Linked DNA regions of Homo sapiens: region 1 is linked to region 2. The links come from fine-mapping of genetic effects on gene expression. Tissue or cell type: whole blood. Region 2 holds a variant in brackets; the other region holds the start of a gene. All regions are shown on one strand. Distances are from middle to middle.

The links.
Region 1: SNHG8 starts here. The variant in region 2 is fine-mapped to the expression of SNHG8 in whole blood (INTERVAL, PIP 0.99).

Annotation. Positions count from the first base shown.
Region 1 is chr4:118,269,500-118,286,792 of GRCh38, reverse strand. It overlaps SNHG8 (small nucleolar RNA host gene 8), which reads right to left and starts at 8,031. Exons shown (of 3, transcript NR_034011.1): 1 at 8,001-8,031; 2 at 7,362-7,404; 3 at 6,970-7,169. PRSS12 (serine protease 12) reads left to right here. Exons shown (of 13, transcript NM_003619.4): 12 at 3,682-3,962; 13 at 4,550-6,755. The coding sequence ends at 4,857. SNORA24 (small nucleolar RNA, H/ACA box 24) reads right to left here and starts at 7,603; the gene lies at 7,473-7,603. RefSeq lists a silencer at 8,204-8,253 and an enhancer at 8,324-8,503.
Region 2 is chr4:118,236,190-118,244,189 of GRCh38, reverse strand. It overlaps NDST3 (N-deacetylase and N-sulfotransferase 3), which reads right to left. Exons shown (of 14, transcript NM_004784.3): 10 at 6,970-7,144; 11 at 3,496-3,666; 12 at 2,041-2,150. Among named protein-coding and RNA genes, the nearest start is that of SNHG8, 39 kb to the left of the region's middle. The variant A/G (reference allele first, on the strand shown) is at 4,870.

The DNA of each region.
Region 1 (17,293 bases), 38 kb before region 2:
TTTTCATGGGGTTTTTATAGGAAATAGAAACATTTTTTGATAGTTTTGTTATAATATGGTAATTGATAAGATCTCTTTTTAATTTCAGTAAGTTAGGGATGAGAGTGTATGTATGTGGACATGAATGTCTTTCAAAATAACTCATTCATTATACATTTATTAAGCGCTTTCTCTGTGCCAAGCACTTTGCTGGGTGCTAAGGATACAATAGTGATCATGACATGGTCCTTGCCCTTGAAAAGCCTTTAATTAAGTCCTAGAAACTGTTACATATGCATTGAGAGTGTTCAAAAGGATTGGCTAGCTTTCAGGAGAGCAGAAGATTAGGAGGAGCCTCCTAGGAGATCTTTGACTTGATCAGGACAAAATCAGGTTTTGCCATATTAGGATAGAGGGGATGAGAGAAACAACATTGCACATAGTTTGGATAATGACGTGGGTTTGTAAGACAACTCTTCAAACGGTGTAAATGACAGGAGCACAGGGGCCAGGCTGGTATCAGAGAGGGGAACAAGGACCAGTTCTTAGATGGATTTGTGTATCATTTAAGGAATTTGAATTTCACATAGATTGGGGATCCCTTGAAGGGTACTCAGAAGGAGTTATATTATCAGGCAGAAACATCACTCTGGCGGCAGCATGAGGGATGGGTTGAAAAATTTAAAACTTGAAGCGGCAAGTCCATTCAGGCGACTACTGCAATAGTCTTGGCATGAAATGACACATTAAGGCAAGATTGCCCAGGGCTTTAACATTGATATTATTTTAAAAATAAATTGCCTGTGCTAGTAATGTCCTGTTTCTTTGCTTACTGGTTGAAGACTCAATTTTTATAGATAATGCGGAATAGATTTATACAGCCAGTTTAGCTGCAAAGATTAATTTAGCCAAGCGTCACAGCTGTTTCTTACAGAATGGAAAATACTGTTGCAATAAGACTTAAAACAGAGTGAAATCTTGTCTCAAAAAAAGAAAAAAAAAGATAAAAACCCAAACAGGTCAAAGTACTTTAAATAATATATTTAACATAGTGTATCTAAAATATTATCATTGCAAAATGTAACTAATAGAAAAGTTGAGATATTTAATATTCTTATTATCTATAGGGACAATATTTTAGTTTTTTTTTCATACTAAGTATTCAAAATTCTGTGTATTTTGTACTTTCAGCACATCTCAATTCAGACTAACCATATTCCAAGTGCTGCAGTAACCACAGTTAGCTAGTGGCTACTATATCGGGCACTACAGCTCTAGATAATTTCTTAAATTCTATTAAAAAGATAAATGCAACATTTCAGCAGTACTTTCAAGGATGTATTTACAATAATTCTTGTGGGAAAAGTGTTAAATCATTTGGGGTTTTACTTTAAATATGTGAATGTACTGTTAATAAAATTTAATGAATATACTAGCGATATTACTAGCACACAGAAAGTAGAAGTGAAAATAAGTACTTGATTACTCTCCATGCCTATTACTTTTTAGTTCAGTATGTGAAATAATCCTAAATTTTACTTAAATTTTCAAGGAAGCTATAAGAGCATATACTTTAGGCACAATATATTAAAAAGCCTCTGAACTTTAAAGATATGTGATGATTTAAGATTGAGTCTCAAGAAATCACAGATTAACTATTAATATTAAAGATCAACAGTAGGTGGCTATATAAGCCAAATCATCTTTATTGCACTGTTTAGTTTTTGAGCGCTGACAGTTAATCATATATACGAGATGGTCAGAGCCCTACTTAAGGATTAGAATATTCAGGCATCTCATAACCTCCAGTAATTTTATAGAAGTGGGAAGTTTTATTTTAAATAGACACTAGAAAATGCCAAGCTTTTGAATACCAACTCAGTTCTAAGTTCACATTCAAGTACAGGTCTTGTAAACAATAAAAGACCCAAGTTTTGGTTAAAAAAAATTTAAGGTGAAAGTTGTTACATGCGTGCTTCCCCACTTTAACAGTTAGATGCCGGCACAAAATAGGTAGAGCTGATGAAACCAGGGCTGGAGTTTTGGCAGGTAAAAGACAAGCAGGGTAGTTTTTCGAGTGATTGTTGTAATGGGCAGACGGTAGAACCCAAGCCAGATAATAAGGGAAGTCATAAAAGACTAAAATGAAAAAATAGTAGGGCCAAAGGATAGAAGTCCAATGGGTTTGAAGGATTTTAGAGCTGTAAAAACAGAAGGCAGAAATAACGGTATGTGTGAAATCAAGATTTCAGAGGTGTGTGGTTACCTGGTGAATACAAGGTCTAGGTTTTACATTGTAAGTGTGTGGCTGAGATGAGGTGGAGAATACACTCATTGCAGATGAGTAAGTCAGGGAACTACAAAGGAAAAGTTATTGGAAATTAAGTCTTAAGAATGTTATAAGTAGTGGAATGCAATGAGCATGGAGCTCTAGTCTTCTGTGAAAAAGAGGAAGTAACTAGGAGATGGGTTGTGTCATGCATTCTAGGTCAGAGGTTCTCAACTGGGGGCAGTTTGCCTAACAGGGAACACGTGACTATGTCTGGAGACATTTTTGGTAATCGCAACTGGGGATGGAGGGTTTGTGTACCATGTACCAGTGGCGTCTAGTGAATAGGGGCCAGGGATGCTTCTAAACACACTATAATGCACAGGACAGCCCTCACAACAGATAATTACCTGGTCCAAAATGTTAATAGGTTCTGAGATTGAGAAACCCTGCTTTAGGTGGGTTTGGTATCAGAATCATCATACTTTAGTATGATGGCTGAAAAATGGGCTGAGAACTATCCATCTGGTAAATATTGCTTCTATTTTAATGGACTATAGAAAGTATACATTAATAATAAGCATTCACTAACTTAATCAATTTTTTGCATTCCTAATTAATGGCACAACACTATTTTAGGTGTTTTAGATTAATCAGTGAACACAACAAAGATATCTCTGACCTGGAATAGCTTTGACTCAAGCAGGGAGGAGGATAAATGCAATAAATTGTAAATTAGATAGTTTTGTTACAAAGTGATGCTTAAAAACGAGGAAAAGTAGAGATGAATGATATTGGGAGTGTTTGATGATGGGAGGAAAAAGAAAGATGGGTTGCAATTTTAAATACGAGGGTGTCAAAGTAGGCTTCATTGAGGTGACATCTGAATAAAGATTTAAAAGAGGGGAAAGGATAGAAGGAATATATGTTTATCTGAAAGTATAGTTTGGGTTTGCATTCACTTTAGAGGAAAGGGAAGTAGTTTAAGTCCACCTTGCAAGAGTGAAGTCGATTGTACTAAGTACTTTGAGGGACACAAAGTTAGTTTCTGCCCTCACAGAGCTTCATGACAAACTAACAATTCTTGGAAATAACAGGGCAACAACACAGGACAATAATTTTGACCTATTCCTGTTTTGATCGCTTTTCATTTGGGAAATGACAGATTAATGATTAGTCTTTATTTTCCACTCATCCTCCACATTTGCTCCTTCTTGGAGAACAGATTACATAATGAAATGAAGATGAGGTTATGACAATGGGTTTGCAGTAGAGGATCAGGAATGGTGGGTCAGATAAATGGAAAGAAAGGTTGAATTTACAAAAGGGGCTGATGATTTGGAAGAAAGGCTTGTATCTTCATTAGTCTTCCTTCTTGACAATAATTTTCAGTATCTGAAGCAAGTCTCTCATTAGTACTCTCTGCCTCTCAGGTATGGCAACAGCACTAGGAGCTATGCTGTTAGGGTTGGAGATTATCATACTCTGGTACCAGAGGAGTTTGAGGAAGAAATTGGAGTTCAACAGATTGTGATTCATCGGGAGTATCGACCCGACCGCAGTGATTATGACATAGCCCTGGTTAGATTACAAGGACCAGAAGAGCAATGTGCCAGATTCAGCAGCCATGTTTTGCCAGCCTGTTTACCACTCTGGAGAGAGAGGCCACAGAAAACAGCATCCAACTGTTACATAACAGGATGGGGTGACACAGGTAAGGCATAATCAAAAAAAGCAGGGCACCTTTTTGTGTCTGGTATTATCCATATATTTGGGTGTGCAATGGGCAATAAGATCTTAAATGGATTCAGACTTATTTGGAGAAATTTTGCTTAGTGTGAAATGCATGCATGTAATTGAGACTTATATTCTGGAGGTATTGTTGGTTCTAATGAGAACTTTAGCATAAACTGAGAACTCAGTTTAATTCAGTGAAGTAGATATGAATTGATGTGCTAATGCGAAACCAGCATTAATGCATTCTATGCTTTTTAATATACAGAATTCAAATACGAAAGCCTGCACAAATATGCTTTCTTAGGTCACCTTACTCTACAAATCCATAAATGTTATTCATTATTCCTCAGACAATTCAGTACTGAGAAATTTGTGAAGGTTAAGATTGTGTCAACATTAAAAAAGGCAGCTAACAATAGTACATACCAGTTAGTCATTGCTCATTTTAAACTACACTAATGCCACAACAGGGATTTTATTTTCATAACTATTACATGCTCAGTAACTGTTAAATGTTGCGATGGTTATCTGGAATGCCACTAATCAGATGTTTGGTCTGAGTAGGACGAGCCTATTCAAGAACACTACAACAAGCAGCCATTCCCTTACTTCCTAAAAGGTTTTGTGAAGAACGTTATAAGGGTCGGTTTACAGGGAGAATGCTTTGTGCTGGAAACCTCCATGAACACAAACGCGTGGACAGCTGCCAGGGAGACAGCGGAGGACCACTCATGTGTGAACGGCCCGGAGAGAGCTGGGTGGTGTATGGGGTGACCTCCTGGGGGTATGGCTGTGGAGTCAAGGATTCTCCTGGTGTTTATACCAAAGTCTCAGCCTTTGTACCTTGGATAAAAAGTGTCACCAAACTGTAATTCTTCATGGAAACTTCAAAGCAGCATTTAAACAAATGGAAAACTTTGAACCCCCACTATTAGCACTCAGCAGAGATGACAACAAATGGCAAGATCTGTTTTTGCTTTGTGTTGTGGTAAAAAATTGTGTACCCCCTGCTGCTTTTGAGAAATTTGTGAACATTTTCAGAGGCCTCAGTGTAGTGGAAGTGATAATCCTTAAATGAACATTTTCTACCCTAATTTCACTGGAGTGACTTATTCTAAGCCTCATCTATCCCCTACCTATTTCTCAAAATCATTCTATGCTGATTTTACAAAAGATCATTTTTACATTTGAACTGAGAACCCCTTTTAATTGAATCAGTGGTGTCTGAAATCATATTAAATACCCACATTTGACATAAATGCGGTACCCTTTACTACACTCATGAGTGGCATATTTATGCTTAGGTCTTTTCAAAAGACTTGACAAGAAATCTTCATATTCTCTGTAGCCTTTGTCAAGTGAGGAAATCAGTGGTTAAAGAATTCCACTATAAACTTTTAGGCCTGAATAGGAGTAGTAAAGCCTCAAGGACATCTGCCTGTCACAATATATTCTCAAAGTGATCTGATATTTGGAAACAAGTATCCTTGTTGAGTACCAAGTGCTACAGAAACCATAAGATAAAAATACTTTCTACCTACAGCGTATAAACTAGCAAAATTTGAAAGGATTTCTGGTAACTAAATGCCAGCTGGACATACAACCTATTTTATCCAACACATTAACATATCTACTATATTTGCTTTTAACAAGCACCTCATCATAGTCCACGTTCCCCGACCATGATGTAAGAGTGCCACCCACTGACACTTCCCTGTAACTGACTTATACCTGCAGGTTTTCCCAAGCCCAACCTGATACAATCCAATCTTAAAATATACTAGTCAAAATGCTTTCCTGGCCTACACATTGAAAAGTTCTAATACATACAGCAGTTATAACATATGCCAGGCACTGCATTAGGCAGCTTTGCACATCACTGACAATTTGCAAAAGGCCAGTAAATCTTATGGTAGTAGCCCTTGTTTTCAAATGGGGGAAAACAGGCTTGCCTCAAAGTGAGACCAGTTGGTGAAACTGATTCCAAACTCCAGAAAAAATGCTGATTTTTTTCCCCATGGTTCTCCTACCTAAATGATTGGTTTCCCTATGGCTATTTCTCCAAGAGTTAAGGGATAGCTGCTTAACTATGCACCTTTACAGAACATTCTTAGCAGTAATGCTCAAATTTAAAAGGCACACTCAAGATACTTCCATGTCATGGATCCTTCCCCAGGTCCCAGTAGTATAAATATAGGGAAGAGGTTAGCATGAACTTACAAATTGTTTTAAGTAATCCTCTTGAATGCCAGTCATTAAAGGACTTTGCCCTTCTACATCAAATTACATCCTTTTCACAAATCCCCATTTCTGTAATAACTGGTGCAAACCTAAAGGTGCTTTATAGTTTTACTACTTTGCAGATTTGCAATGCTGCATATAATGCAGAAGAGCATTAAAAACTTTTGTAAAAACTCATGATTTTGATAAACTTTTAAAGTAGCGTTTATATGTAAATAGAACTACACATGGCACACACACTTGCACAAGGGCTTCAGAAAAACGTGCAATATAGGTGAGAAAAATGTCTATTGAAACTTTCTCACAGGCTGCCCTTATAATTAAACTAGTGTTGGGGCAAGCAACATCTGTTTCAAGTAGATCAGGGACTAGCAAACCTAAAAGGCAGCAAGCAGCCTGCAGTTTGCTCAATCCTTAAGAATACATGGTTCATACAACATGCTTTTACTATGTCTTAAGTGTGACTTTTGAAAGATACAAGTGTTCTGTGCATATTTGTGTAAATAAATACATAATTTTCCACCTTGTATAACTGCCTTAAATTTTTGTATGGTTTAAAAAGAGTCTGCTGTCTCCCTTGGGGGTAGCCTGGTAATTTTTATATTTTACATTTTTCACAAAGGCTGCAATTACCTTAGAACTGTACTCACACTACTTCCACATGAGCGTGTAACACTAAATAGGAGGTATTATGCTATTAACTACCTTTCCGTCTATTAATCACTCAGTCAAGGAACAATGAGTAGCCACATGAATTAAGCATTTTATTTAATTATCACGGACCACCTTAAATATTACTTTACAAAATTCAGGCCTATATTTAAAATAGGTGTCCTGATAACTTCCAGGATATTATTCGGAACACCCGTTTCCCCAACTACGATAAGTCCATTGCCGGATGCTGAATAAACTTCGCCCATTACCACTTGGATTTCTTGATAGTCTGCAAGAGAAAAAAAGCATTATAAAACTCCGAGCTGTGTACTTACCTCACTGTTTTGAGATCTTATCAGCTAATTCAGTTGGTTGTTAACTCAAACTACAAAAGCCAGCAAAACGGGCCAACTTTAGCTTTCCAACGTCCTGCCGCTAAGGCGTTTCAGATTAACTCAGAAATATCAAAAAAGAAATGTACCTTATGTTTCCATCATCCATCGTAATGTGTTCAGCTCAGCTTCCTAGAAACATTGAACAACGGTTTAGAAATTTTGCCCAATAACCCGGCACCCTCTAGGTTTTTAACAGTGAATGTTACTTGTGCAAGTCAGAATCTGATACCAATTAAATGGTGACAGCTTTGCCAATAAACAAGGATATGCTCTTCCATGGCTAGGAAGGGAGACTGCCACGGCTGACAGGTCCCAAAGATACATGGAGATTCACAATCCAGAATTAACCAGCAACCAAACTGCTACAGGTTATTACTCACCATCTGGCTCAAACTGACGGTTCTCGGGGTGCTAGGGCACAAGAGCGACAGAGTAGACTCAAGATGGCCACATGACACAGACGGCTGAACAGGCTTCACCGGAGTCCCCGAGTGCACGGAACCTTTCCCCGAGGGCCCACGGCCCACGCACGCCGGGGTTCAGGGTCCAGGGCTGCACGTGGACGCCCGGCGACCTAATGAGCACTCAAGTCCGCGCATGCTTGTAAACTTAAGGGTTTCCAAAGCCGCCCCCGACCTACCAATATCCTGACTGCGCTGCCTTTTAGGTAAGGCAGTAAGTTTCGGCCCAATTATCATTTTAACTTACGAAAGACAACTACGTACTTTCACCTAATCCCGACGCTTCCCGAATGTGAAAGGCCGAGGCCTTCGGCACACGCTCTCTTATAGAACTGATGACGCTATTCCGGGGGAAGCGCCGCGAGGGGCGGAGCCTATGCTGTTTCACTCCCCGCCCCGCCTAGCCCCGCCGCGGCTCCACCTGTTCCGTCTACCACCCCCTTCGCGGCTCCTTTCCCCCCTCCCCCGCACATGGTCCACGTCTGAGCGGGTCACCTGGCTCCGGATCCAGACGCATGCGCACATACGAGAGCCAAAAGGTTCTCGCATAGCGAAAGATCCTGACGCTTACCGGTGTAGGTCACGAAAGCGAGGGGGATTTTTTTGGTATTTCCTGTTTAGGATACTTATTTTAGACAATATTAGAAAAAGGGGCCGAACGCGGTGGCTCACGTCTGTGATCCCAGCACTTTGGGAGGCCGAGGCGGGCGGATCACTTGAGGTTAGGAGTTGGAGACCAGCCTGGCTAACATGGCGAAACCCCGTTTCTACTAAAAATACAAAAATTAGCCTGGTGTGGTGGTGAACGCCTGTAGTCCCGGCTACTCGGGAGGTTGAGGTGGGAGAATCTCTTGAGCCCGAGAGGCGGAAGTTATGGTGAGCTGAGATCGCTGGTTAGCATTTTACAAATTACCTAATCACTACTCAAAAACAAGAAAAGTCTGAGAAACTATTATGCCAGAGAAAATGATGCATAATGATTAAATGTAATGTGGTATCCTGGCTGGGATCTCCAGCAGAAAAAGGACATTAATGGAAAACTAGCGAATCTGAACAAAGTGTGGAATTTAGGTAATAGTGCCAATACCGATTTCTTTATTGTGACAGATATACCATGGTATTGTAAGATATTAATGGTAGGGGAAATTGGATGAAGGGGGTGTGGGGACTCCATTTTTGCAAATTTTCTGTAAATGTAAAACAAAGTTTAACTTAAAAAAGCAATTATAACCTTACAGTCTATTATACTTTCATTTTAAGACAAAGTAGTGATTTAGTAGTGGTTTCTATCTACTTTAGTGTGAAATTTGTGGCTGAGATGACAGTATTTCTAAGTTTGACTTGAGATCAAACCCAATGAATTTAGCTGCATTCAAACCAAGGCTTTGAGCCTTTGGATATTCAGGAGAGACAATGTGGTAACAAATAAAAGAATTAAAAATTGGTTGGTAAATGAAGATTGGCTTAAGGATTTTATTTTATGTATTTATTTATTTAGAAACATTCTTGCTCTGTTGCCTAGCCTGGAGTGCAGTGGCATGATCTTGGCTCAGTGCAACCTCCACCTCCTAGGCTCAAGCGAGCCTCCTGCTAGGCGTGTGCCACCACTTGGCTACTTTTTTTTTAAGGTTTTTTTTTTTTGAAAGACAAGCCCTCACTATATTGCCCTCAGGCTGATCTCCTGTGCTCCTGGGCTCAAGTAATCCTCTTTCCTCGGCCTCCCAAAGTGCTAGGATTGCAGGTGCAAGCCACTGCGCCCAGCCTAAGGATTTTAAAGATAGAATGCAAGGTGAACCTGTTAGAACTGATCAAATGATGGCTAGGTAACATTTCAGTTCTGCTTTTGATACATGGAGTGAACAGTTCATTATAGAATATTTATTCTTCAACAATGCTTTTCCCTGCACTATATCTTTTTTCCTTTTGTGGTTTAGTGTTGAAACTGGTAGTCATCAGAAAAATTTAACATAGAATGGCACATCTGTCATATGAATGCTGAGATGAATAGGAGAAAATATAGTGAGGAAATAACCTGTGGACTTATTTCTATCTTAAAACACTTAGCAAATCTAAACTTCCAGTGTATACTAGCAGCGTGATACTTCTGCTGTAAAAATTGGTTTTGCTGCAGTAATAAAAGTATAGTGTATTGCAGTATGATCTAGTGTTAAAAAAAAAGCATAGTGTCCAAAAGAGAGGAGATGGACGTTCCCTCCTATCTATATTAAAATATTCTTGTCAGTTCTGAACATCTTGTTCAGTTGTTAAACATTTACTAGACTCCAGCAAATGTTTATTGAGCAGACATGGCCTTTGCCTCAAGACTTGAGAATATAATTGAGTAACTTACAGTTAGTGCCATTACAATGTTTTCCAAATCATTCAAAGTTCAAAGCAAAGAAATTAGTTCTTATTTTTCCCTATCCTTTATTTTCAGTATTTGATATATTTTTGTATCAACCAATGTATTAGTTATCGATTGCTGTATATCAAATTAGCCTAAAGCCTAGTAGCTTAAAAAAAAATAAGCACTTACTATCTCAAATAGTTTTTGTTGGTCAGGAATCTAAGAGCAGCTTAACTGGCTCAGTGTATCTTGTGAGGTTGCAGTCAGGATGTTGACTGGCATTGCAGCCATCTGAAGGCTTGACTGGGGCTGGTGCGGCAGGATTCTCTTTCAAGGTGGCTCATTCACAGACCTGACAAGTTAATGCTCATTGTTGGCAGGAAGCCTCAATTCCTCAGCATGTGAATCTCTCCATAGGGCTGCTTGACTGTCCTCATGATTCTCGTGGCAGCTGGCTTTCCTCAGAGTGAGTGACTCAAGAGAGGAAGCTCCAACACTTTTTATTGTGGCCTACACACCATCACTTGTTAGAAGTTAGTTATTAATGCCAGCTCACATTCAAGGGGAGGGAAATTAGCCCGTCTTGAGGGGAGTATAAAATTTTGTTGACAAATTCTAAAAGTGTCACAGTCAGGATGGATGAAGTTGTGTTGCAGTTACAGAAGATCCAAAATCTCTGTGGCTTAAAACAACAGAGATTTGTTTCTTGTCATGCTTATGTTCATGTTAGAGACCAGGCTAATGAGGCCTTCACCATTTGTAATGGTTCTAGGCAACATAAAGGGAGAAGGGAAAATAGTCATTATGTTCTTAAAGGATTCCATTCTGATGTGACATATGTTACTTTGACTCATATTTATGGACTAAAGCAAGTTCCATGGCCACACCTAACTCCAAAAGCCTGGGGAAATGGAATCCTACTGTGTGCTTAGAAGGAAGATAATCGGAAGTATTTCAATATATTATTATAGCACTAATGATTTCTACAGTGGCCAAGTTACAACTGTTTACATTATTTTTATAGTTACCTTTTCTCTATTGTTACATTGTGTATTAGTCTGATCTCACATTGCTATAATGAACTACCTGAGACTGGGTAATCTGTAAAGAAAAGTTTAATTGTCTCATGGTTCCACAGTCTGTACAGGAAGCATGGCTGGGGAGGCCTCAGGAAACATTCAGTCATGGCGGAAGGGGAAGCAGGCACATCCTACATGGGCAGAGAAGGAGGAAGAGAGAGCAGAGGGAGGTGCAACACACTTTTAAATAACCAGATCTCGTGAAAACTCACTATCACAAGAACACCAAGGGCAAATCAATGATCCAATCACCTCCCACCAGGCCTCTCCTCCAACACTGGGGATTACAGTTCGACACTGGGCAGGGACACGAATCCAAATCCAAACCATATCACACTGCTAATCTAAGATAATATGTCTGAGCTGTCTCCCTACATTTCTAATTCTCTCTTCCAATCAACTAAGTATATTAATGAAAGATTAAATTTCTGGAAATATTTTCTACATGTTAAGCACTTGTTATAGAAAGTGTAATGACTTTCCTACTGATTATCAGGTAAAATTCCTCATCCCAGGCCAACATACAATGTATGTTACACTTAGCATGCTCATTCCTATTTTTGTTCATGCTATTTCATAGAATAGAATATTCTACCCATTCTTCCTACCCATCCTTTAAGATGCATCTCAGTTCTTATTATTTTTTATAGTAATCTTTCTTTTAGAACATTAGAAAATATTGGTCTCATCTCATTTTTGCCATCCTTAATACTTATTCTTTGTACTGTACATTAAAAAAAATTCTCATGACTAAATAGTGAGTTTCTACTATATCCCAGGTCCTGTCATAGATGCTGTGGCTAGAAAGAGTAAACAAAATAGAATTTAAAAAAATTTCATGGAGCTTACATTTTAGTGGCAGAAAACAGATGCAAATAAGAGTATTAGAGTTCTATCAGAATCAGAACTACTAGGAAATACATATGATTAAAATCATATATGTAGAATCTGACCTTACACAATTGTGCAGTGGAGGGACCAAGGAAAATTGGCATCTACAAGAATGAGCTGTAATCCATGAGAATGAACTAGAATCAGGACCAATCTCTTCCTGGTTTCAAGGGTTTAGCTTTGATGATGGAGGTGATCTGCAAGAGAAGCTGATGCCCTTTGTCACAGACTTAGGGATTGTTGAAGTTGAAACAGAAGATCTGGGATGACTGAAGAAGCTATAGATCTGGCTACTGCCCCACACTTACAAGACAATTAGTAGATAAGTGATAACTTGCATGATCTGCAACATTGCCTGATGCCCCACACTGACCTTCCAAGTGTAAAAAGTGTATGCTGCTTTACTTTGATTTGCCAGGTCTCATACAAAATGTCTCCTGTGGTCTTTCTGAACGTGGAATTATTCAGGGAAGGGAAGGGAAATGTAGGACTAGCTTAGCTAAACTAAAGTAGAAGCCAATCACAATATGTAAATTATATGGTATGTTAACGTCAATGAGTGCTGTGGAGAAAAACAGCACAGAAGATGAGAAGTGTTTGGAAGGTAGGAATTACAATTTTAAAAAGGTGTTCAGGGGAAATGTCATTCAGAAAGTGACACAAGGTCAACAATTTGAAGAACATGAGGGAGCAAAACATGCAGACATTTGGAAGAGGAATATTCGAAGCAACCAATGCTTTCTCATTGGGGCCATACTTGATACAGTAGGCAAAGTTCCCAGTGACCTCACCTCATGTTATTCCTTCCTTTATGTAATCTCTTGAATGGCAAAGTGGTGAAATGTGAGACCAGGTATTAAAACCTGACTTGTGTTTTGCTACCACTTCCTCTTGTGTCTTTCTGTATTGCTTGCTTTGATCTAGCAAGCTGCTATGTTGGAGAGGCCCATGTGGCAAGGAACAGAGTTGCCTCTGGCCAACATCCCACAAGGAACTGAGGCTATCAGACCAGTAGTCCATGAGGAATTGAATTCTGTCAACAACCATATGAATGAGCTTGGAAGTGGATCCCTACCCAGTTGAGCCCTGAGATGACTATAGCCCCAGCTGTTGATGGCAGCCTGGGAGGGACACTGTAGCAGAGGATCCAGCTAAGCCACACGTGGATTCTTGACCTACAGAAAGTGTGTGAGATAATAAATTCTGTTGTAAGCTACTACATTTTGGGATAATTTGTTATGAAAGAATAGATAACTCAGCTTGGCATGTTCGAAGAATAAAATTTGGACCAGTTTGGCTGGAATGAGGTAAGCAAGTAGGAAGTGAAGTTAGAAAGGTAATGATAGGCTACCTATGGCCTTATAGGTCATTATACAGTTTTTAGTTTTTTTGGAATAAGTTGGATAGCCTTTGGAGAGTTTTGAGTAGAATGACATGATCTAACTTAGGATTTACATGTTCTCTCTCAAAGCTCTGTTTAGAAAAATTCTAGGGTAGCGATGGAGATAATGGTAGAGCAGGGAAAACAGTTAGGGTAGTGCAATAATAAGATGAGCTATTGGTGTTGGGTTAGTGGTAGCAGTGAAAGAAATAAATGATTCAATTCTGGAAATATTTTTATTGTAGAGCTGACAGTATTTGCTGACAGATTGGATATAGTAAAGTATATAAGATAAAGGGATTCTAGGCTATGAGAAAAATGACTAAGGTTTTTGGTGATTTGCTGAGATGGAGACTGCAGGAAGAGCAGGTTTTCGGGGAGAAGTATTTAGGAGCACAGTTTTGTATGTTATGTTTGAGATGCTTTTTAGGCATCCAAGTGGAAGTGTTGAGTAGAGAGTTCAATATATGAATATGGAGGTCTGGGGAGAGGTTTGGCCTGAAGAAAGAAATATGTGAATTGTCAAACTATGGATGGTATGTAAAGCCATGAGATCAGATAATTGTACCAAGGGAGGAAGGATAGATAAAAAGTAGGATAAGAAGCCAGGTGCAGTGGCTCACACCTCTAATCCCATCCCATCACTTTAGGAGGTTGAGAGAGAAGACTCTTTGGAACCTATGAATTTGAGACCAGCTTGGGCAAATGGTGAAACTCCGTCTCTACAAAAAATTTTTTTAAAAAATTAGCCAGGTGTGGTGGCACACACCTGTAGTCCCAGCTACTCGGGAGGCTGAGGCAGGAGGATCGCTTGAGCCCACGAATTCGGGGCTGCAGTGAGCTATGCTCATGTCACTGCACTCCAGCCTGAGCATGAAACCAAGACCCCATCTCTTAAAAAAAAAAAAAGAAAGAAAAAAAGAAAATAGGATAAGAAACTGAGCCTTGGAGCCTGTCAATATTAATCTACCAGGAAAAACAGTAGGAACCTGCAAAGGATGTTGAGAAGTAATTTAAGGAGAAAAGCCAGCAGAGTGTGATACCTTAAAAGTCAAAAAAGTTTTTCAAAAGAAAGTGGTCAATTGTTTATGATACAAGTAGGATGGAAGTTGAGAAATGACCATTGGAGTTAGCTATATGAGGGTCACTTGGGACCTTGTTGAGAGTAATTTCAGAGAGAACAGGAGAAGTATTGGAAATCATGGATTCGGAACAACTATTTTGAAGAGTTACACTGTAAAGAGGAAGAAAAATGCAGCAATATCTGGAAAGGGATGTGGGATCAAGAATGGGTCATTTTTAAAGGATAGGAGAACTTAAAGTATGTTTGTATTCTGATGGGAAAGATCCAGTAGAAATGGAAAAACTGATGATGCAGCAGATATGTGATGAACTGCTTAGGAAATGAGATGGGATCTAGTGCACAAAAGTAGGGGTTACCCTAAGATAATAGTTTAGGCAGTTCATCTATAGAAATAGGAGTACATGGGTACAGGTGCTTGTGGATGAGTGGGTGGTGTGAACTTTGAATGTTCTCATCTACTAATGTTTTTTTCCGGGGTAATAGGAAACCAGGCCATCAACCGAGAGTGAGGATCGGGGAGAGAGTGTTGGAAATTTGAGGAGAGAGGAAAAAATATAATTAGGAGATGGCATCAATAGACTTGGAAAAGTAGTGGGTTTCCCCGGTCACATTAGGAGCTCACTTGAGTTCTTGTAATGAATTCAAAGTCAAATCTCTAGCATGATTGTGTATTTTCTCTTCATCATGCTCAACTGCATAGGTGCTGGTATGGAGCTGACAGGGAGTTGGAGTTAACCAAGTTGCAGTTTGCCAAGAGAGTGAGCAAAGTGATAGAAGGGAAAAGGAATGCATGCAAGGGACTGGTTATATTGATTTACCATGACATTTAAGTTAGACAAGAAGAGATGCTAATACTTGAGAACAGTGAGGGACATTGATAATGTGGTTTAAGTTGGATCCATGAATTTTGAGGTGATGGTGATCCAAGAATTTTGGAGCTGGGATTTTAGAGTAAGTGTTTGACATTGTGAAACATTTATAATATAAATTTATTGAAAAGTTTGGCAAGCAACATTGTGAGCCTTTTATGGTTTAGCCTGAAAAATTGGATTGCCTATGTGTTCTATGATCTCAAACTGGCCTCCAGCACTTTAAGAGTGAACGCCTGACTTGGTTGTAGAAGCTTGCACGTCAGTGAGATTCTGCACTTATGTTTCATTAAATATTTAACATCTCAAAAGCTTGACTTTTTCTTTCTTTCGAAGATGGCTTGTGGTACTTGCTTTAGTCTATTTCCTAGTGAGGCTTTTTTTTTTTTTTTGGGCTTACTTGCCTTTATGCAAAATAAGAGTGTTATTTATTTTAACATTTAATATGGCATATTAAAAGAGAAGATCTTGTTTTGGAGTATTCATAAACTAACAATTTAAAAACATCTAATGCTTTCATCCCATATCAATTAAGATAATTTGAAAATTTAATGATCACTTGTTAAAATTCTCCTTTTTCTACACACAATATAGATTACAGATGTCTTAGGATGTCAAACATTTACTCTAGTACCCCAGCTCCAAATTACTTTGGCCCATTATCCATAAGCATTATAAATATCTGTATTAGTGGGAAGATAAGCTTACGTTTATGTAAAACTTGATGGAACGAAACAAAATCACATGAAACAACAGTTTTTATGTGGCCACTAGATGGCTCTGTTACACTATTATTTAGGTATATGTTTAAATCCCTTTGAATTTGTTACCTTATTATTTAGGTATGTGTTTAAAGCCCTTTGAATTAAATACATTTGTTCATTGTGCATGCATGTATTAATGTATATGTGGATAATAACATGAAAATGTCAGCATATCTAGTATCTCTAAAAGCCTATCCTCTGGACTCTAGTTTTATATGATGAATGTCTACAGTGAATATTGAAAACTTCAGGTTCTACCAGAAAGGAACAACTTTCTCCAGATGCATATTCTAAACATACCATTGGAATACACCAGACCTTTTTAATATGTGAACTTGATATACAGATTTTTAACATACTGAATTCATCAATTAGAGATTTAATTCATTTCCTACTGTCTGAAGTAGTTAATACACTGTTAATGTGTTGTATATCAAACTAGACAATGATTCTGTTGGAGAAATAAAATATTTCTGCCCAGTCTACTGGAGGGCAAGAATGTAGTCATATTCATCTTACCTGCAGTAGTACTTTGGAACATGCTCAATGAAACGTTTGTTGAATGAGGAAGCCAGGATGATAAAAGTGAAAAAGAATTCTGGGAAATTATACATAATGTACAGAAGGAAAAATGAATGCAGGGTAGTACATTTAAGCAAAACTGGCAAACTTTTTTGAATGTAGCTTAGTATATTACGGCAAAGTCGACTAACTCTTTTGGCCTCAGGCACATCTTACCTCTCTCTTTGCCAAAAAGTTTAAATTAAGTCTCCCCGCTGCAATAGGACTATATTTCAAATTTTATAATGGAAATCATTTCAGAGAGAAAAATTCTATGGCAAACTTTGAAACTAATTCCTATTAGTTAGTATTTATAACTGGAATAGGTCTTCACTGTCTCTACCAAAAAATACAAAAATTAGCCAGGCGTGGTGGCAGGTGCCTGTAATCCCAGCTACTCAGGAGGCTGAGTCACGAGAATCACTTGAACCTGGGAGGTGGAGGTTGCAGTGAGCCGAGATTGTGCCACTGCACTGCAGCCTGGGTGACAGAGTGAGACTGCATCTCCAAAAAAATAGAAAATCAAAAACGTAAAATAAAAGACTTCAGATGCTATATAAGAATAAATCCAATTTAAGTTA
Region 2 (8,000 bases):
TTCTACAACTAGTGCACTGCCAGGTTTTACAAGGTATGTCAGGCCAATTGATGATTGACAAGAAAATATAAAAAGAAATGGAATGGAAACACAGTATCTCCACCTGCAGGGTGAGAGCCTGGGTGGCACTGCTGGAATAGAAACTGTGGTTTCAGGGACTACACATATCTTATCTTGCTATTTCACCCACTGAGCCCCCAACCAGGTTAGAGAATCATATAATCAGTAATTTTAGCTAGATACAGCTCAGGTGCAAACGGACTACGGTTCTTTGTATATAGTATGTTGCTTTGATATTCTCTTAAGTTTACACTGCCTTTTCTCAGCAGTGGAGATGAATAAAAAGCTTGCTGCTGAGCTGGCTGCAGAGGGGACAAATACACAGCATGCAGGTCAAGGACCATCCCATAAGAAAAAGCAACTCTGTCTTTATAGAATACTGTACTTCTTTTTTTCTGAAATACAATGCTTTGCTACATACTCTATAAAAAAGACCCACAGATAACCTAACTTGAAATAGAAAACTGTTTAGAAAATAAAAGCTTTCTTTTCCAAGAGATGCTTAAAAAGATACAGAACAGAAAATGGTCTTGAATTTTTAAGTGCAAACTGAAATCACTCAGCTTTCTTTAAGGTCAAGTTGAATGTTAAATACCTAAGGCCAGTGTCTGTGTTAGTACTTGAACTAAGCTATACAAAACTCTGACAGTACTCATAGTATAGAAAACACAGAGGTCAGAAGGTTAATAATAACAGCAAAGTATAAATGACTCTTAGGAAGGAAGCTCAAAACTGCAGAGTTCCACCTACTCCTTTGTCCTCTACAGCAAAATGCCTCCCTTACGTGTCTCTATATTTGATTTGTAGGAGATATAAGCAGTATTTGATGTTTTCCTGCTAATCTTTTTTTCCTGCAAAGTTTGTTGAAAGGTAAAGGAAACCTGCCTCTCACTTTCTAAATTGATATTAAAGAGTACAAAAAAAGGGAAAACTACTCGATCTGTGGAACTGAGTTTTATACTGAAAAACACAATGGAAAAATTCCATGATAGTCTTTTTCAGTTTTTTTTTAAGGCTCAGTCCATGTAATTAAAAAAAAACCAACTTACGGTGTGAGTCAGGTCCATGACCCAATCCAACTCAGTATCTTCCAGTTGCTCTACACATGTGGTAGGAACAAATATAATTCTCCTAAATCTGATTGCCAACTATTCTAAATGGACGCAGTAAGATAGAGGTCTTCTTCAAAAATGCTAAGTGAAGCCCAGAGTCAGCACTAGGGTGAGGTAAGAGAGGCACCTAGGACACAGCACTCAGTCTCAGGCATGGGCACACCTCCGAGAGTGACTGCCTTCTTCAGCCCTAGTTCCTTACTGGTCCCTGGTCATGGACCTTACAGAGTCAGTTACCTAAGAAAATCGGAGGAAACCAGCAAAAAACCATACAAACAAACAGAAAAATCAAACCAGTGCTTTAACTGCTGAGGACTCTGAAGCAGAGATGACAGGGTCAAATAGTGGATAAAGACAAAGATGAAAAAATAAAAAAGGACGTTTGTTTAGGAGCGATAATAGTACATCTCTCTCTGCTTATTCAATCACCTATGGACTATTTCTTGCTGTATGACATTGTTTCTGAAAATTACACAAATGAGAGAAGAGTCAGTTCCTAAACTACCTAGTTACTCACCTGTTCATACTTCCAAGAAGCCCCATATTGCCTGTTAAATAGGCTCAGGCTTTACGAATTTATTTCAGATAACTTCTTTTAAGGTTTGTGGTTTGTTTTAAGATTTACCACTGTTTTATTTCTCTACTTTCCTTTCAGGGAAATCTTTGTACAATTAGGAATTAACACAGGATTTAGGACATTTCTGTGTCACACTGTTGAAATGTTTTTTTTTTCCGTGGTTAATGTCAAATTGAAAAATAACCAGTATATAAGGAACAAGTAACCTGACAGTTGTATGACCAAACTGCAATTTCTTTGAAATCAATTCTCTGCTGAAATGTCAATAAACTAATTAGAATATAAACTTACGTTAAAGCTTCTGAGTAATTATAATGAGGCAAGACTCCTAGAAACTTCTGTACTTCATCCATCACTGTAGCAGGATCAGTTCTTAGTTGTTGCCCATCAATAATTAGCAACTAAATTATCAAATAAAAAAATGCACATTGAAAAAAGACATGTAAACTGTATAATGAAAAATTTCTGCATTCTAAACTCATTCAGTGAGAGACACTGTCCTGAGCAGAATTGCATGCATTGGTGTTAGATAGAATCCAGGTCATCCTCATTAATGACCTGGAATAAGAAATAAATCACACCAATTAAGTACACTCAGGTTTGCAGTCTGAGAAGTCACACTATGAAAACAAAAAAGGCAGTTGAAAGACCAAGAGAGCTTAGAAAAGTGACTAGAAAATCACAAATGGAAACCAACTTTCAAAACAGACAAAGCAGTGATCCTGTCATTCAAGCTGGAAAGTACAATAGAAAAGAAGAAAGGTTATAATAAACTCAGATGTAATCTGACAGAGAACATGTCATTCCTCACGATTCCTTTCAGGAATAGCACTGTCAGGTTTGAAGAAATATTTCGATAATCCATATGGAGAATAAGGTTAGATTCTCAGGAAACTTGAACATGGACAAAGTTCCTCAAGAAACTAAGAAGAAGTTGCTTGTTATGCCAAGGAGGGTGGACCCAGCAAGATGAGAGGAGACCAGGATTAAAGGCCACAAAGCCTGCAAAGCAGGTCTTGTCTATCCATACCTCTTCTCTGATATTTCTGTTTAGCCTAGACCAGCACTGTTCAATAGAACTTTCTGTGATGATGAACATGTTCTATAGCTGCTGGGTCTAACATTTAGCTATTGAACACTTAAAATGTGGCTAAAGGAACTGAACTTTTCATTTTATTTGATTTTAATATAAATTAAAATAGCCATATGTGGTAGTGGCTGTCATACTGGAAAGCATGGCTCTAGACTCACAGGTATATACCATGTCTGATGTGTCTGGATTGCTTACATGATCCCATGAGGGGCTGATTTTGCAATCTAGGTTGATGCCAGGCAGAAGAAATTCAAGGGGCTGAGAAAAACATAGGACTTATCAAAAATTCAGCAAGGTGGTTCAAAAAGGAAATAATGGCACTTAATTAAGCAAAACATTATTTGTCTTGTTTGGTTAAGAGGTTCTCTTTCAAACTTTATTCTCAGGATAAGAATCGTATCTAAAGCTTTCAAAGCTTTTTACAATCAGGAAAGGTACGCACAGCAAATAGAGCAGGGAGAATTATTCTGAAATACTCTTAGAAAATTAAAGTTTTTCTACTTCTGCCTATTTCTCTTTGCCATAGCCTCATTATTTACAACTAAAGAGGAAAAACTAGTAATAGTTTAACAATTGAAAATTTTCTTAACCTTAAGGCAAAGTCATCAACTTAATGAGATTCTAACATGATGTAAATCCTTATTACTCCATACCTGAAATGGGGGGAAATAAACAAGCCATCTCTCGATGTGGCTGGCATACCACCCCGGGACCAAACATCTCTTCTGCAAGGCTCTGAGCTCCGAGGGTGCACGGGGCCCTGCTGAGATCACTTCGTAGAAGCTAAACTTCAGAGCTGCAGGGTCTTCATGTGATCGCTGATGCTATGATGAAAAGGTGGATAATTAAACTAATCTGAACCGTAGGCATAAATAATTAAAAATCAATCTTTGTGACAAGTCTCAAAGCTAAAGAAAGAAGTGCCTCACTGCTGGAGAGTTATCTATTTTGAAATTAGTAAAGGAAGAAAATGTTTGCTTGGAGCATCAGGATTTAAAGTTATGATACTTATGGGAGTAAATTTTTGAGAATTTATCTGGTAGAAGTTGAATTCCTATCGATAGGATTCCTTCACCAGCATTACTGAGTTGTTTCCTTAGTGTATGTATTTTATTGTGAAAGTAAACTTTTGAAAGCTGTGTTAATGCCCTCTTTCCAGCTCATAAGCAAACCATTTATAGTGTCCAGTGAATATCTATAATAGAGAAGCACCCTACTACCTCTGCCAAATAGTTTTGCTCCATCTAGTAATGCAGTTTTAGATTAGAAAAGGCCTATCAGCTCTTTTAAATGAAGAAAGTACTAGAAAGTCTGACATGTACATTATCTGAAATCCACAGCTTTTATCATACATTCCCTGATATCTAAAAGCCAAGATTATTTTATCTAATGGTAACCTTTGCGGTGAATCAGAATCATTTATTGTGCAGAAAATGCAGAAAGCAGCAATCCAACAGGATTGCTCAGGCTTAGGCCCATGGGTTTGAGGAAATCACCTTTTCTTTAAATTGGCCAATAAATATTCAGGCTTAGTGGTGAGTTTGTGGATGTTTACCTCATCTAGTTGAATAGCAAATTTTCTGCAATTGAGATTCAAATCACTGGACTACAAACTCTACTAGACTTTGTTAAGGCCTGCATTTTGCCACTGTGATTTATTTGTAATATTTAGGACATTTTGTTAGCTTGCAGCCTTAAAGCCTTCTTTTTCTGTAAATTCTCTATTTTTCAGGGACTAAGTGGTTGCCAAGCTCCAATTTTCTTCTTTTTCTTGGAGTCAATTAAGGCTTATTTCTCTTTTCTCCAGATACTTGGTGGAAAAGGTAGAAGTTGCAAAATCAAATCAGGCAATTTGCAATTTGCTGTATGTTTTGATTTAAAAGATGGCTTCAGGTTTGGCGTGAATGATTAGTATAGAATGGTGGATTTTTATGGATCTTAGCTTTCCAGGATGTCTCCACTCGCTATTTTTCAGATTATTATCAAAATCCCTAAGATTTCATCTGCTTTTATGACCTTTCCCTACT[A/G]TGTTCCTGCCACAAAACCTTTTCCAACAATCTGTTCTTCCTCTTGTGAACTTCAAAAACTGCTTTTGTTAAGTAGCAAAAGGACTCAGTAATGAGCAACTTTATTCTCTAATATTATGATTGTCAAGAACTTAGCTGTTTTAAATCAAATCAATAAGAATGGAACATCCCACTCTTGTAGGGAGGATCTAAGCTATGTGGGTCACTTTAACACAGGGAAGCAGTCATATATCCAGCCTATTTGCAGACTTCAGATTAGAGGTTTTTGTACATAGAACATTCCACGTTTGTCTTAACATTTTTGTTTCCAAGAAAATAGGACCCTCAGTCTGCTTTTCAGCACTGACCTGATGATAACTCCTTTACACAGCTCTGCTTTGCACCTATGAAAACACTTCTTCATTTTAATTTTGCCTAAATGTATCCCCTTACGTATCTTTCCCTTATTTAAGAAAGTGCCCCATGGTTCTGGTATTTGGGCTTCTCTGCGACAGCCTTTCCCAGGTGGTCTTTGTCAGGTGGGCTTTGTCATTCCGAAGGAGTCTGTATGTCAGTCGCTTATTACTTTCTAATTTATATGCTTGTTTATACATATTTCTCCAATTAGGCTGAAAGCAATTTCAAGTATAGCTTCAAATTTATTTTTCAAATCACACTTAGAACAAAACTTTGCACATGGTAGTCATTAAAATTACTTGATGAACGGATAAACACATGAACAGTAGGAAAGCATTTTTTAAGTTACAAAACTGAGAAATGAGAACTAAGGGTCCTAGAGACTAAAGACATTGACTCTATTAATTTTACTATGTTCTTATGTTAATTTTGACTGCTTCATATTAAACCCTTCCAACTGGTGGTTAAATTATCACCGAAACAAGTTTTAAAAGATTGTTTCCTATTTGCAATGATTTATTAAAAGTGTATTTGACATATATATTATTACTAGAGTTTGTTAAATTATTTCAAAGTGATCGTTTTTGTGCAAGGTTCTAACCAACATCAGAAAACAATGGCAATGAGTATACAAGAAACATTTAGACATGTTAGGCTCTCAGGGATGTAGAATTTTCTTTCTTTTTTTCTTCTTTCTTTTTCTTTCTTTCTTTCTTTCTTTCTTTCTTTCTTTCTTTCTTTCTTTCTTTCTTTCTTTCTTTCTTTCTTTTCTTTCTTTTCTCTCTCTCTCTCTCTCTCTCTCTTCTTTTGACAGAGTCTCCCTCTGCACAGTACATGCTGCAATCACAGCTCACTGCAGCCCCAACCTCCCAGGCTCAGGCAATCCTCCCACTTTAGCCTTCCAAGTAGCTGGGACCACATATGTGTGCCACCATGCCTGGCTAATTTTCTTTATTTGTAGAGACAGAGTCTCCCTATGTTGCCCAGGCTGGTCTTGAACTCCTGGGCTCAAACAGTCTTCCCACCTGAACTGGGCTCAAACAATCTTCCCACCTTCCAAAATGCTTGGATTACAGGCATGAGCCACCACGCCCAGCCTAAAGATTCTTATATATATTAGTTTTGCCACTAAGCTGTTTCTTTAGTACAAGTAGCTATTTAAGCTGTTTTAGAGCCAGGGTCAGCAATCTATGGCCTACTGCCTATTCAGTAAAGTTTTATTGGAACACAGGAATGCTTATGCATTTACATATTGTCTATGGCTGCTTTCGAAATACAATGGTAGAGTTGCAATGGAGACTGTATAAACCTCAATGTCTGAACTTGTTGCAATCTGACTCTTTATAGAGTACACAAGTATTAGATGAAAAAATAATGATTTTAAATTATTACCTTAAAATGCAGATATATAGAGGCATAGATATAAAAAAGTACATAATATTTTGTTATATTTTAATTTAGTTTCTTTTATTGCATTAATACATTTTATTAAATTAATTGATTAAGTTAATAAAATAAGAACAAAAACTTAGTGGAGGAAATTTCTCAATAGAAATCAAGAAAAACTTGTCCATTTTTCTGTAGATATCAAACAACTAGCAAATCTCTTTTGTGAAAACCTGAGCTAGTGGGTATTGCTAAAAACAATGCTCCATTGTCCATACTCCACTTCTCCCTGTTGGATTTTATTTGCATTTTCCTTACCTGGTACCAGGAGTATGCTCGGTCTGAAGGGTCAATGAGAATGGTGATAATCTTGGCTTTGGGAACCAGAGAAGCAGCTCTTTTAGGGGCTTCCTCTGAGTGGAAGTAATTGGCACTCTTCTCAAACAAAAAGTCGGTAGTGACATTAGATGGGACTGGGAAGAAATCCATATACCTAGAAAAGGAATATTTTTCTCAAAATAAGATTCTGGTTTATACTCATTCTGGTGACCAAAGATGTTAAAAGTGTCCCACAAATTCATGTGTTTCCTAAATAAAAGGCTTTTTCTTTACAGCATTTGTCCTCCATAGTTAGGAAGAGAAAAATATCTAGAACACTAATAATGTGTTTGGAAGATGTTTTTCTAAGTACATTTTCTTTATGTTTTGCTTAATATCAGGAAAAAATATAAGCAATAACAAAAATGTAGACACAGAGTGATCAAACTGCAACAGTGATCGACCTAACTATATCAAATGTGTCTCAATGTAGAAACACTGTACAGAGAAAAATTCAAGTACTCAAAAAGAAAATCGTATTAAAACAGACGATATGTTCAGTTCAGACATTTTAAAAGGATTTAGAGAAAATATTTTTTACTTTATTGCAAGTGAAATAATTTCTTTTCTACAAATGTATTGTGCCGGTGTTACGTTTAATCACATAGTGTGAAAGATGCAGAGTATATCTGGTATAAATATTGCTTATTTGCTTAATTTTTCTCATATAGAGCCACTTATGTTCCTCTTTAGAATAATTGTAAGAGAAGTTTAAAAACTATGTACATTCCAAATATAAAACTCTAACAAATTTCCCAAGGTCATGTTCTATATCCTCATGGGTAGAGAGAATTCAAATTACCAGCAGAATGAACACAGGGATATCTATAGGTTCAAGCACTGAAATGTAGAATTTTATTTAATGTTCCACCTGAATAAAAGTTGTCAAATGTAACTAATTCAGCATATGATAAGAAATATATCTGAAGCACTAAGGAACATCCTTTAGAGGAAAAGGGATTTTTTAGAGT